Regions from separate parts of the Homo sapiens genome. Here region 2 is linked to region 1. Evidence: fine-mapped expression QTL. Tissue or cell type: unexposed skin. Region 1 holds a variant in brackets; the other region holds the start of a gene. All regions are shown on one strand. Distances are between the middles of the regions. Region 1 overlaps ARHGAP17 (Rho GTPase activating protein 17). Region 2 holds the start of LINC02175 (long intergenic non-protein coding RNA 2175).

Region 1 (5,374 bases):
CAAGAAGGGAGAAAAGGGACAGTTGGAGTGGGAAGAGGACTGGTTTGCTTTTTGAGTTTAAGGTGAGTGCTGTTCATCAAAGGGAACCGATGCTTAGGAGGCTGCAAGGATTAAAATGCAGGTAAGAGGCAAAGCTGTCCAAGTAAGGGGATTTCTAGGGAAAAGGGGGCGAGGAAGTGAGGGTGGGAGAGAACAGAGGTGCAAGGACTGGACCTCAGAAAAGGCTGACTTCTGGGGTGGAGACAGAAATGAGCAATATATAATCCTTCTTGAAGAAAAATTTTTAAAAAGAAATGGAGCAATGCAGAGTCCTTACAATGAAAGAAGACAGTCGAGTGGCGTGAGGAGACAAAAATGAATAAGGAAGGGACGGCCCATGCCGGGTCAAATGCCAGGATCTGACGGGTGGTTGCTGGTCCTTTGAAAACTGCAGTATGTTTTGCTCTTTTTTCCTAAACAGCAGAGGGATTGGGGGTAGACACAAGAGTGCAAAGGATTCAGGAGTAGGAAGGTGGTAAGAAAATGCAGGTGGCAGGCAGGAAGGGGTCATCTGAAGTACCCACCAGAAAAAATGAAGGAGAACCAGATTAAACAGGACGCTGTGTTCAGGTCAGGAAGGTACCAGATTACCACCAACTGACCATGAATGTGACACCAGAGTCCACGGAGGTGAGGGGGCTGTGGGGGCAGGTCACACTTTTTTTATATAGTAAGGACAAGATAAGTCTTTCTGAAAACAGAGAAGACAGCAAGGAAAGAAAAGACAGAACTAAGATGAAAGGCAGGTACAAGGACAGGCAGAGGTGGGAGGGGTTGAATTGCAACTCGGTAAAGGGTGACCTCAGCAAGAAGGACAAATCGCACTTCCTCCACGGGCTGTTCCATCCTAACCTCTTTCCTGTCCCATCCCCGCTCTCCATGGCTTCCTGATGTATTTCTCTAGGGAAAATACCCTTGGGAAAAAAACAGAATGAGAGTTCTAGTCTAGCCTGGGCAACAGAGTGAGACTTTGTCTCTTTAAAACAAACAAACAAACAAAATGCGAAAAAAAATCCAATCTCTCGTTTTTCCTCTTGTTAATCAACTCTTTCAAATCAGACTCTCAGCCATTCAAAGGCTAAAATGATGATTTGTCTACTATTTTGTCCTATGCGGGGCCCAGCCCACAGCAGATATCTCATAAATATATTTTCTTGGTCCTCTGAACTTGCCCAGCAAGAGTCTGTCCCTAGAAAGGTGGGAACATTTTCCAGAGACCTCGTTCCTTTGCACTGTGACTCAACACCATCCTCCATGAACTAATAATCTTGATTATTTGGGAAGGCAAGGGCAATGGCTGAGAAAATCAGAAACACTGCCCCTGAGAATGCTGAAGATCTGACTATATGGTCAGGCAAGACATAAAATTTTATAATTCCATAATCCCAAAATTTTCAGGCACAAAGCCAGAACCTGTGAGGATCTCCTGGAACTTAGGGGGAGAAGAAGTCGCATTCTTGAAGGTGCTGGTATGTATGCACATCCACAAAGCATCCCCCCCACAACACACACAGACACATGCTCGGTCTCAAAATCACAAAGTCATCCCACTCAGCACCTGGCCTGATCCCCTTTCAGCTCAAGACCAGTGGTTCTGCAGAGGAGCATAAGCTCCAAATGTCAGGTCTACACCACAGGTGAAATAGATCCAAAGACGGCCGAGCAATTTCTGACTCAACAGCTGTGCTCATCTCTGCTGGTAAATGCTCTAATGGTAAATCAGAGAGACACAGCATCGAAAGCTTTAGGGAGAGAAAAAAAAAAAAGCAGCTTTAGATGCCCAACTTAAAATTCAACATAAGGGGAAAGTTCAGTCTGCACCTAACTTGCAGATACAATCTGCAGTGTGCTTGAATATGATAGGAGAAATATTAATGGTGATAAGAACAAAAGCTTAGTATAAAGACAAAGGAGGAGTCTGAACGAAGCGACCACGGTCTTAGGATTCAATCACACTTATTATTAAGTGTGACGTGCATGATGTGGCATCAAGTACTGGCTTCTCTTTTGGAAAGTCCAAAATATTTTCCCTAGAATGGATGCTCTTGGAGTCACATGGCCAGAATTAAGTCCTGTGGAACAAATAACTGATGTGGAAAAGGATCATTCAATGCTGGACTTTTTCAAGCCTACAGAAGATGGGAAAACACACAGG[T/C]ACTCCCCAAAGAGGCCAGCTTTCTCTTCAACTGAAGGTTTCAGAAGAACTACAAATGTTCCATTAGTGTGTTAATTTGGGTTTGGAAGAAATTAGAGAATGCAGCAAGGAAGATGAAATTATGCTGGGAAACAGTACCCTCCTAGGCAGAGAAGCTTTATCCCAAGGACGTGCATGCAGAGGAGTCAGGGTGAAGAAGAACCCAGGCAGAGGTGGCAGAGGCAAGAAGGAAGCATCAGCCGCACGCGGGTTACATTACCTTGATGGGCTCGCATTTCGGGGAGGGTCTTTTCTAAGACTGCTAATGCTTTTCTATGGTAATCTGCTTGGGCTTCTAATAACTGAGAACAGACCCACATTCAAAAACAAAAGTAACGTTAGCATCGGATGGACACACACACAATGGCTGAGCAAAACTAAAAATGAAATCTTTTGCAAAAAAGCTAAAATGACTCCATTTTAACAATGCTTTAACATTTTCTCAAGGGAAGGTGCTTACCGTAACAAAGAATTTGCCATACTCCCCTTCTTTGGCCATAAAGTTGTACATGTCTGCTGCAAGTTGATCCTGGGTAAATGGAAGATAAGAGGTTATTGAAGAAAAAAGAAGTGAAACAAAATGGCATCTGAGAACAATCTCTGTGAGCTCTTAGATGAAAAAGTGATGGAAAGCACCACAGATTAAATGTCCATCAACTGCCTGGTACAACCATACAGAAAGAATAAGGAGGCTTCTTACATGACTGACAAAGAAAGATCTCCAAGATATATTTTAACACATCTGTTTAAGAAGCAAAGTACAGAGCATTACTTATGGTGTATTAACATCTGGGTTAAAAAAGGGGTGGAATGGCCGGGCACGATGGCTCATGCCTGTAATCCCAGCACTTTGGGAGGCTGAGATGGGCAGATTACCTGAGGTCAGGAGTTTGAGACCAGCCTGGCCAACATGGTGAAACCCCGTCTCTACTAAAAATACAAAAATTAGCCAGGCGTGGGGGCGGGCAGCTGTAATCCTAGCTACTCGGGAGGCTGAGGCAGGAGAATTGCTTGAGCCTGGGAGGTGGTGGTTGCAGTGAGCTGAGATCGTGTGCCACTGCACTCCAGCCTGGCCGATAGAGTGAGACTCTGTCTAAAAAAAGGCTGGGTGTGGTGGCTCACTTTGGCAGGCCAAGGTGGGCGGATCACAACGTCAGGAGATTGAGACCATCCTGACTAACACAGTGAAACCCTGTCGCTACTAAAAATACAAAAAATTAGCCAGGTATGGTGGCGGGCACCTGTAGTCCCAGCTACTTGGGAGGCTGAGGCAGGAGAATGGTGTGAACCCGGGAGGCAGAGCTTGCAGTGAGCCAAGATTGTGCCACTGCACTCCAGCCTGGCAACAGTGCAAGACTCCGTCTCCAAAGAAAAAAAAAAAGGCAGGGGGTGGGTGGAAGGGTATGTCATATTTTTATTTTGTTTTTATTTATTTTTTTGAGATAGAGTCTCACTCTGTCACCCAAGCTGAAGTGCAGTGGCACAATCTTGGCTCACTGAAACCTCCACCTCCCGGGTTCAAGGAATTCTCCTGTCTCAGCCACCCTAGTAGCTGGGATTACAGGCGTGTGCCACCACACTTTTTGTATTTTTGGTAGAGACAAGGTTTTGCCACGTTGGCCAGGCTGGTCTCAAACTCCTGGCCTCAAGTGATCCACCCACCCCAGCCTCCCAAAGTGCTAGGATTACAGGCGTGAGCCACCACACTCAGCAATGTCATATTGTTATTGTCACATATGTATAAAAATATGTCTTGACAAAAAAACAAGAAATTAGTACAGTTATTACCTATTGGGAGCAATGGAAATTAGGCAGGAGGAGGATAATGGTAGAAGAAAGACTTCACGGTACACTGTTTTACACTTTTTCATATCTGACCTAATGTAAATGAATTACATATATAAAAATTAAATAATTTTGTGAACAGTGACAGGCTGAGTGTGGTGGCTCACACCTACAATCCCAGCACTTTGGGAGGCTGAGGTGGGAGGATTGCTTGGAGCCAGGAATTTGAGAACAGCCTGGACAACAGAGCAAGATCTAGTCTCTAAGTAAAAAAAAAAAAAAATTTTTTTTTTTTTTTTTTTTTTTTTTGAGATGGAGTCTTGCTTGCTCTGTAGCCCAGGCTGGAGTCTGGTGGCGCAATCTTGGCCCACCGCAACCTCCATCTCCGGGGTTCAAGCGATTCTCCTGCCTCAGCCTCCTGAGTAGCTGGGACTACAGGTGCATACCACCATACTCAGCTAATATTTTTCTGTTTTTTAGTAGAGATGGAGTTTCATCATGTTGGTCAGCCTGGTTTTGAACTCCTGACCTCAAGTGATCCTCCCATCTCAGCCTCACAAAGTGCTAGGATTACAGATGTGAGCCACTGCACCTGGCCAAAAAGAAATTTTAAGTGACAGATTAGGCAATTAGGTACGTATTTCCAATCTTCAAATATAAATATACATAGGAATTTTATATATATATATATATATGAAAACTTATATGCCGGAAAATATATATGTAGAGAGAGTTTGTTTTTTTTTTAATGTAATGACTTCTGTTTTTGGCATCAAGGTACACAAATTAATGTGAAGGGCCTCCCATTTATGACAAAAACTTGGAAATGCTAGTTAGAAGTAATGAACATCCTTTTATAATAACTGGGAAAGCAATAAAGTAAATTCCTTGATTCCCCTCAACCCCACCATACACACACACACACAAAGAGAGAAAGAAGAAAAAGAAGCAGAAAGAAAGAAAAAGTCGGAATGCTAAGCATCAATGGAAGCTGGAGATGACCTGGGGCAGATTTGTGCCAGTCTTGGTGACCAAGGTGTCTGAAGCCTTGGGGACTAGTAAGGAGAAACAAGTACACATATATCATGCATAAAGATAAGATTCCTGAAGAACTGTACTCTCAACGAAACAACAGATTAGAACAAATGCACTTAGCATCACATGGAAATCATGGGGAAGTATGTCTGTTTTGGAATGGGCTTTAGGTCTGAGAAACATTGGCCAAGAGATTTCACAAAACATAGGCCTGCTTTCAGGAGGGTTTAAAGTTTAAATTTACTGACATGTGGTCCCAGAAACCCCAAACTGATTTAAGTTTAATTAAAAATGGACCTGGACTGGTAATACTCTCTGGGA
Region 2 (5,374 bases), 110 kb after region 1:
TCTCATCACCATACCTGGCTAATTTATATATTTTTTTTGTAGAGATAGGGCCTTACCATCTTACCCAGGCTGGTCTCGAACCTCTGGCTCAAGCAATCCTCCCATCTTGGCCTCCCAAAGTGCTGGGATTACAGGCGTGAACCACTATGCCACAGTTGAGTTTAGAATGTTTATTTAAAATCTTGTGACACTGAACTCAATGACTAGTTCTCGGAAAACTTACTTTTTAATAGTGTATTGTGGTGTAAGGCCTGAAATTAGGATTCATATCAAATTCTGTCTTTACATCCATTTAAATCAAGAGGGCCTCAAATGGCTGAACTCCAAGCCTCGCTCCCTGTCTGCTTCCGCAGATGAAATTCTCTGGCTAAACACTCTCCTTATTTTAGGGATCAGACACAGAGCCTGCTTATCCCCAAACAGTAGGCTTCAGTTCCCTGCCAGCTCAAGGACGAATTATTCAGACAAGCCAGTCACACCCTCCCGTGGGAACCAGGGCTCACTCTGCACTTTTGTTACTACAAAGCCTGCCTCCAGCAGCCCCTCCTTGTTACCGTGTTCCGGAGTGTAGCCTCCACATTGCCCTGCATAGTGTGCAGGGTCCTTCTCCCCTGGACTGGAGTATCTGTGACCAGTCAGCTGCTGTTGATTGCATCCGTCCTGCATCAAGTGTTGTGTGTTCGGCCATCCCCGTATCTCTGGGGGTGGGGACAGGGGCGGGGGCAGGAGCGTGGGGGGAAGGAATCCCTCTTTCATCAATGGAGTAAAGAGTGTGAATAAAACGATTGGCATCACAAACAGTGTGGCCCATCCTTGATTGAGGACCCCTGGTTAGCTTTAACTAGCTGCTCCTTTACTAAGTAGCTGGTTTTGTTTGTTTGTTTATTTATTTATTTAGAGACGGAGTCTTGCTCTGTCTCCCGGGCTGGAGTGCAGTGGCGCGATCTCAGCTCACTGCAACCTCCTCCTCCCGGGTTCAAGCGATTCTCCTGCCCCAGCCTCCCAAGTAGCTAGGACTACAGGCGCCCACCACCACACCAGGCTAATTTTTGTATTTTTAGTAGAGACGGGGTTTCACCATACTGGCCAGGTTGGTCTTGAACTCCTAGACCTTGTGATCCACCCACTTCAGCCTCCCAAAGTGCTGGGATTACAGGAGTGAGCCACCGTGCCCGGCCTAAGTAGCTGGTTTTATAAGGCGGCCAGGACTATTGAGAACATCACTGCCAGTTGCTGGCCAGCTTGCCCTTCAGCTAATGAGTTTTGTTATCTCAGTAGGTGTTGCCACTTCTTCCCACCCTGACGAACGTTAATGGACTGTATCTCCTTGTGAGGTCCCATCAGGTGTGGCCCGTGTCGGCCAGGTGGTTTCCCAGGCTCCCACCTGGGGGCAGCAGCAACACGACATCCTAACGGGTGGGTGCCTGAGTTCCACTAGAGTGAGGCTAGACTCTGTGGTCTTTGGTCTAGCCTCATGACCATCGCTCCATCACCGGCTGCTTGGGACAGCCAGGCAGACACTGTTTGGGAAAGTGTTCCAGCATAGTCCTGTGGATAACCCTTTTTCCTTTCCCCAAACACCAGGGTTTTTGGAACCATCACCTGGGAAGATTTAGGAATGGCTCCCTGGTGGTCTCCTAACAGCCTAAAGACCCCATGGGCTTTTCTTGGCGGTGTTGCTTATCTGCATGCCAAAGGACCAATCCTGTGGGCAAGGGGCTCGATGGCCCCACCTGGACCCTAGACAAAATGAACGTACTAGGGGGATCCCAGCACTGAAGATTTGCCTGGCCTTCCTGGGGGAGCAGTATGGCCGCCCACGGAGCCGGCTGCTGGTCTCCCTTTCCCATAACCTCCCGGAAGATCCACACCACGAATGATCTGATGGGGACAAAAACCCCGGGACTCGAGGGACCGTTGCGGCGGACCCTTAAAACACCTGGCAATCCCATTAAATTGAAACATGGTACATATTTTGCTCTTCTAGTTTTGGCTAATACGTTCTATTTAAAGGGTCTCCCAGCCACAGTTTGCCAGCGGGCAGGCGGCGCCGCAGGAAGTGACCGGGCAAGAACGGGGGTCGCCGCCCAGCTCGGCCTTCTGGTCTCTGCGCCCTCGGCCTGGGGCTCCAGGCCACAAGGGGAGGCCGTGCTGGGCGGGCCCGAAGGGGGTGGGCGGGGCCCCGGAAGAGACGTGGGGGCGGGGCCAACGGACCGCGGAGGCGGAGCCGCTACAGTCTGGGCGCTGGAGCGGTGGGAGCAGCGCTCGTCCGCCGTTGGGGCCCCCAGCCCGCGCGCGTGAAGCAGCTAGCCGACCAAGCCCCGGAAGGCGAGTGCCGGAGGGGGCGGGACAGCTCCTCCGGGGCCAGCGGGCACCAGGCTTGGGGGCTGAGGCCCAGCGGCCCGAGACCAACTGGGCTGACCGAGGCCGCCTCCCCGCCAGCCCTGGGGTCCACTGCCCGGGGAGCAGCTCCCTTCCCAGGTCAGACTCGGGCTTCATCCTCTCTTGCCGCGCGCCGAGCGGTTTTCAACTCTCACTGCTAGAATTCCTCCAACCACCCAGGATAGCAGGACCGAGATACATGGCCACCCATGACCCGGAGCGTCCACTTCCAGGGACAGGCAGTGGTGATTGGCTTCGGTTGTCATCTGTGCCATCTGTCCATGGTTCGAGAAGCTGCTGTTCACGTTTTGGGGAGGATCATGGTTTGAGGGCTCCCGTGGTAGAATTTGGGGAGCTCTCATAGGCAGAAGGCTGAGAAAAGTTGGTGCTGTGGGAAGTCAACTGGCAGCCGATGGAGTCGGGACCCGGGAGGAATGGAAAGGGAACCCAGATAGGAAGCTACTGCAGTAGGCTCAGAGAGGTGATGACGGCAGGGCTAAGACAGCGGCCTTGGGCGGTGACTGGGAAGAACGTTGAACACCGTGTTTGGGCTGAAGAAAAGAGCAAGGGAAGAGGTGAGGAACTTCAGGTGAGGGTTGATGTAGATGTTACTTACACAGGTAACAGACATTCTTCACCTTTTCATTGTTTTACAATGATTCATTCTCTCTCTCTCTAACATATAATTGTGATATTTTCACCTGTAGTCCCAGCTGCTCTGGAGTTTGAGGCAGGAGGATGGCTTGAACCCAAGAGGTGGAGGCTGAAGTGAGCCAAGATCGCGCCACTGCACTCCAGCCTGGGCGACAGGGCAAAACCCTGTCTCTAAAAAGAACTTTTTAAAAAAGCACCTGTAGATTTAAGCACATAATAACTACACTTTTGTCTGTTTTATTATGATATCAAAGTTAAATTTATGATGAATGACTAACTGGACAAAACTGAGAGCAACCACCACAGAGGTGAATATACTGAATGTATAACACTCTCTAATAATTTTAAGAACTCCGCTCTAATGAGCAGATATCACAGAAAGAGACTTTTCAGATGAAATACCGATGACCAGGAAATCTGTGAGACCATTTTAAAAAATTCGAAGTCATTGAAGAAATGCAAAGCTTCCAGGCTCCACTTTTCACTGATGAAATTGGCAGAGTTTGGGACAATGAGATGTTGCTGTCCCGGGAGTGCGGATGGGGCTGTGTCCTGTGATGGCGGTGGGCACTGGCACTCTTGTCCAGAAAGACATTCACCACTGTGGTTCAAGAAGCACCTCAAAGGTCTTCACCTTGGTCCCTTGTCCACCTCTGCCCGCGGTCTCTCCTCCTTTCAGCCTCCTCTTTCCCACACAGTCCCTCCCGCCCTGGCTTGGTCCCCTTTCTTCTGACTGGGTCAGGCATGTGGGTGACTCTTTGACTTCCAAGGCTCTGTCTACTTGGCTTTTTTCTTTCACCTGTTCTGCAGAATAACAGCCTGATTCGTTCCTCTTTTTGGGTCCTTCACTTCCATACCTGGGATTCGGGGCGTGGCCCAGAAAGACCCTGCAGTCTTGCAGTGTGGGGCTGCCAGCATTTCATGGCCTCCAAGCTCAGCTGGGCTGAATGAACGCTGCCATCCAGCGCTTGGCTCATTTTCTGTCCCATTTTCCTGAGTGCTTTTGCCAGACTTACACTTTTCTGAAAGCTACTCCACCCTACCCCAGACACACCCTCTCTCCTCGGATGACCTGCCTCCTAATTTCCTGAGAAAACTGGACATGGCCACCTTTCCCCAGTGTCTGAGGCCCAGGTTGACCCGTGGTCATGGTCGCTGTCACCACCCACCTGCCTGTATGACAGAGTGAGACCCTGTCTCAAAAAAAAATAAAAAGAATGCCTCATGTTAGGCTGGGTGTAGTGGCTTATGCCTGCAATCCCAGCACTTTGGGAGGCTGAGGCAGGAGGATAGTTTGAGCCCAGGAGTTCAAGGTCAACCTGGGCAAGAGAGGGAGACCCTGTCTCTACAGTTAATTTTTAAAAATTAAGGCAGGGCATGATGGCTCGTGCACGTAATCCCAGCACTTTGGGAGGCTGAGTCAGGACGATTGCATGAGCCCAGGAATTCAAGACCAGCCTGGGCAATGTAGAGAGACCTCCATCTCTACAAAGAATTTTTAAAAATTAAGGCAAGGTATGGTGGCTGATGCCTGTAATCCCAGCACTTCGGGAGGATGAGGTAGGAGGATAGATTCAGCCCAGGAGTTGGAGGCTGCAGTGAGCCATAATCACACCACTGCACTCCAGCATGGGCAACAGCGTAAGACCCTATCTGAAAATACATAAATAAAAGAAAAAGTTAGCTAGGCGTGGTGGTGCATTCTTGTGGTCCCAACTACTCAGGAGGCTGAGGTGGGACAATCACCTGAGTATGGGAAGTCAAGGGTGCAGTGAGCCAAGATGGTGCCATTGCACTCCAGCTTCGGTGACAGAGAGCCAGACCTTGTCACCAAAAAAACGAAAAGTCTCCTGTGAAAAATGACAATTTCCAGTGGAACAGTTATGAGGAAGAGATGGGATCTGCCTGGGCTTTTTCAGTCTTTTGGACAATCCAAGATTCCTCTAGCTAATGACTTCACAGTTGGTAACAGCTTGTTAGCTTTATGGTGTTTCTTTAATGTTTGTTAAATGTTCCTGGGATATAGATACCAGATTACAATTCACACCAGCCGGGAGGGACAATGGAAATTTCTTTAGGAGGCTTGCAGATCCCTTGGACCTAGGGCACCCAACCTTTTGGGATATTTAGGAGAAAAAGGAGGGTTTTACTTCCGTCTTCCCTGGGGTTCCAGATGAATGTGTCATCTTGGCTAGTCATTTAGAGTCATCTTATGAACTCTAAATGAAACTGAAGTCACACCTTTAACATTACTTTAAGGAAGAATCACAGAAGCCAACCTTAAATCACTTAAAATGAGAATGAAACTTGAAGCAATAGATAGGAAGAACCATTATCT

Evidence for each region. PIP is the estimated chance that this variant, and not a neighbour inherited with it, causes the effect.
Region 2: LINC02175 starts here. The variant in region 1 is the best candidate, but not a certain one, in a credible set for the expression of LINC02175 in unexposed skin (GTEx, PIP 0.82).

Annotation. Positions count from the first base shown.
Region 1 is chr16:24,957,218-24,962,591 of GRCh38, forward strand. ARHGAP17 (Rho GTPase activating protein 17) reads right to left here. Exons shown (of 20, transcript NM_001006634.3): 8 at 2,694-2,762; 9 at 2,454-2,535. Among named protein-coding and RNA genes, the nearest start is that of ARHGAP17, 55 kb to the right of the region's middle. The variant T/C (reference allele first, on the strand shown) is at 2,195.
Region 2 is chr16:25,064,690-25,070,063 of GRCh38, forward strand. LINC02175 (long intergenic non-protein coding RNA 2175) reads left to right here and starts at 2,198. Exons shown (of 2, transcript NR_135197.1): 1 at 2,198-2,957; 2 at 3,090-4,266. It also overlaps the pseudogene SCML2P2. RefSeq lists a silencer at 2,101-2,490.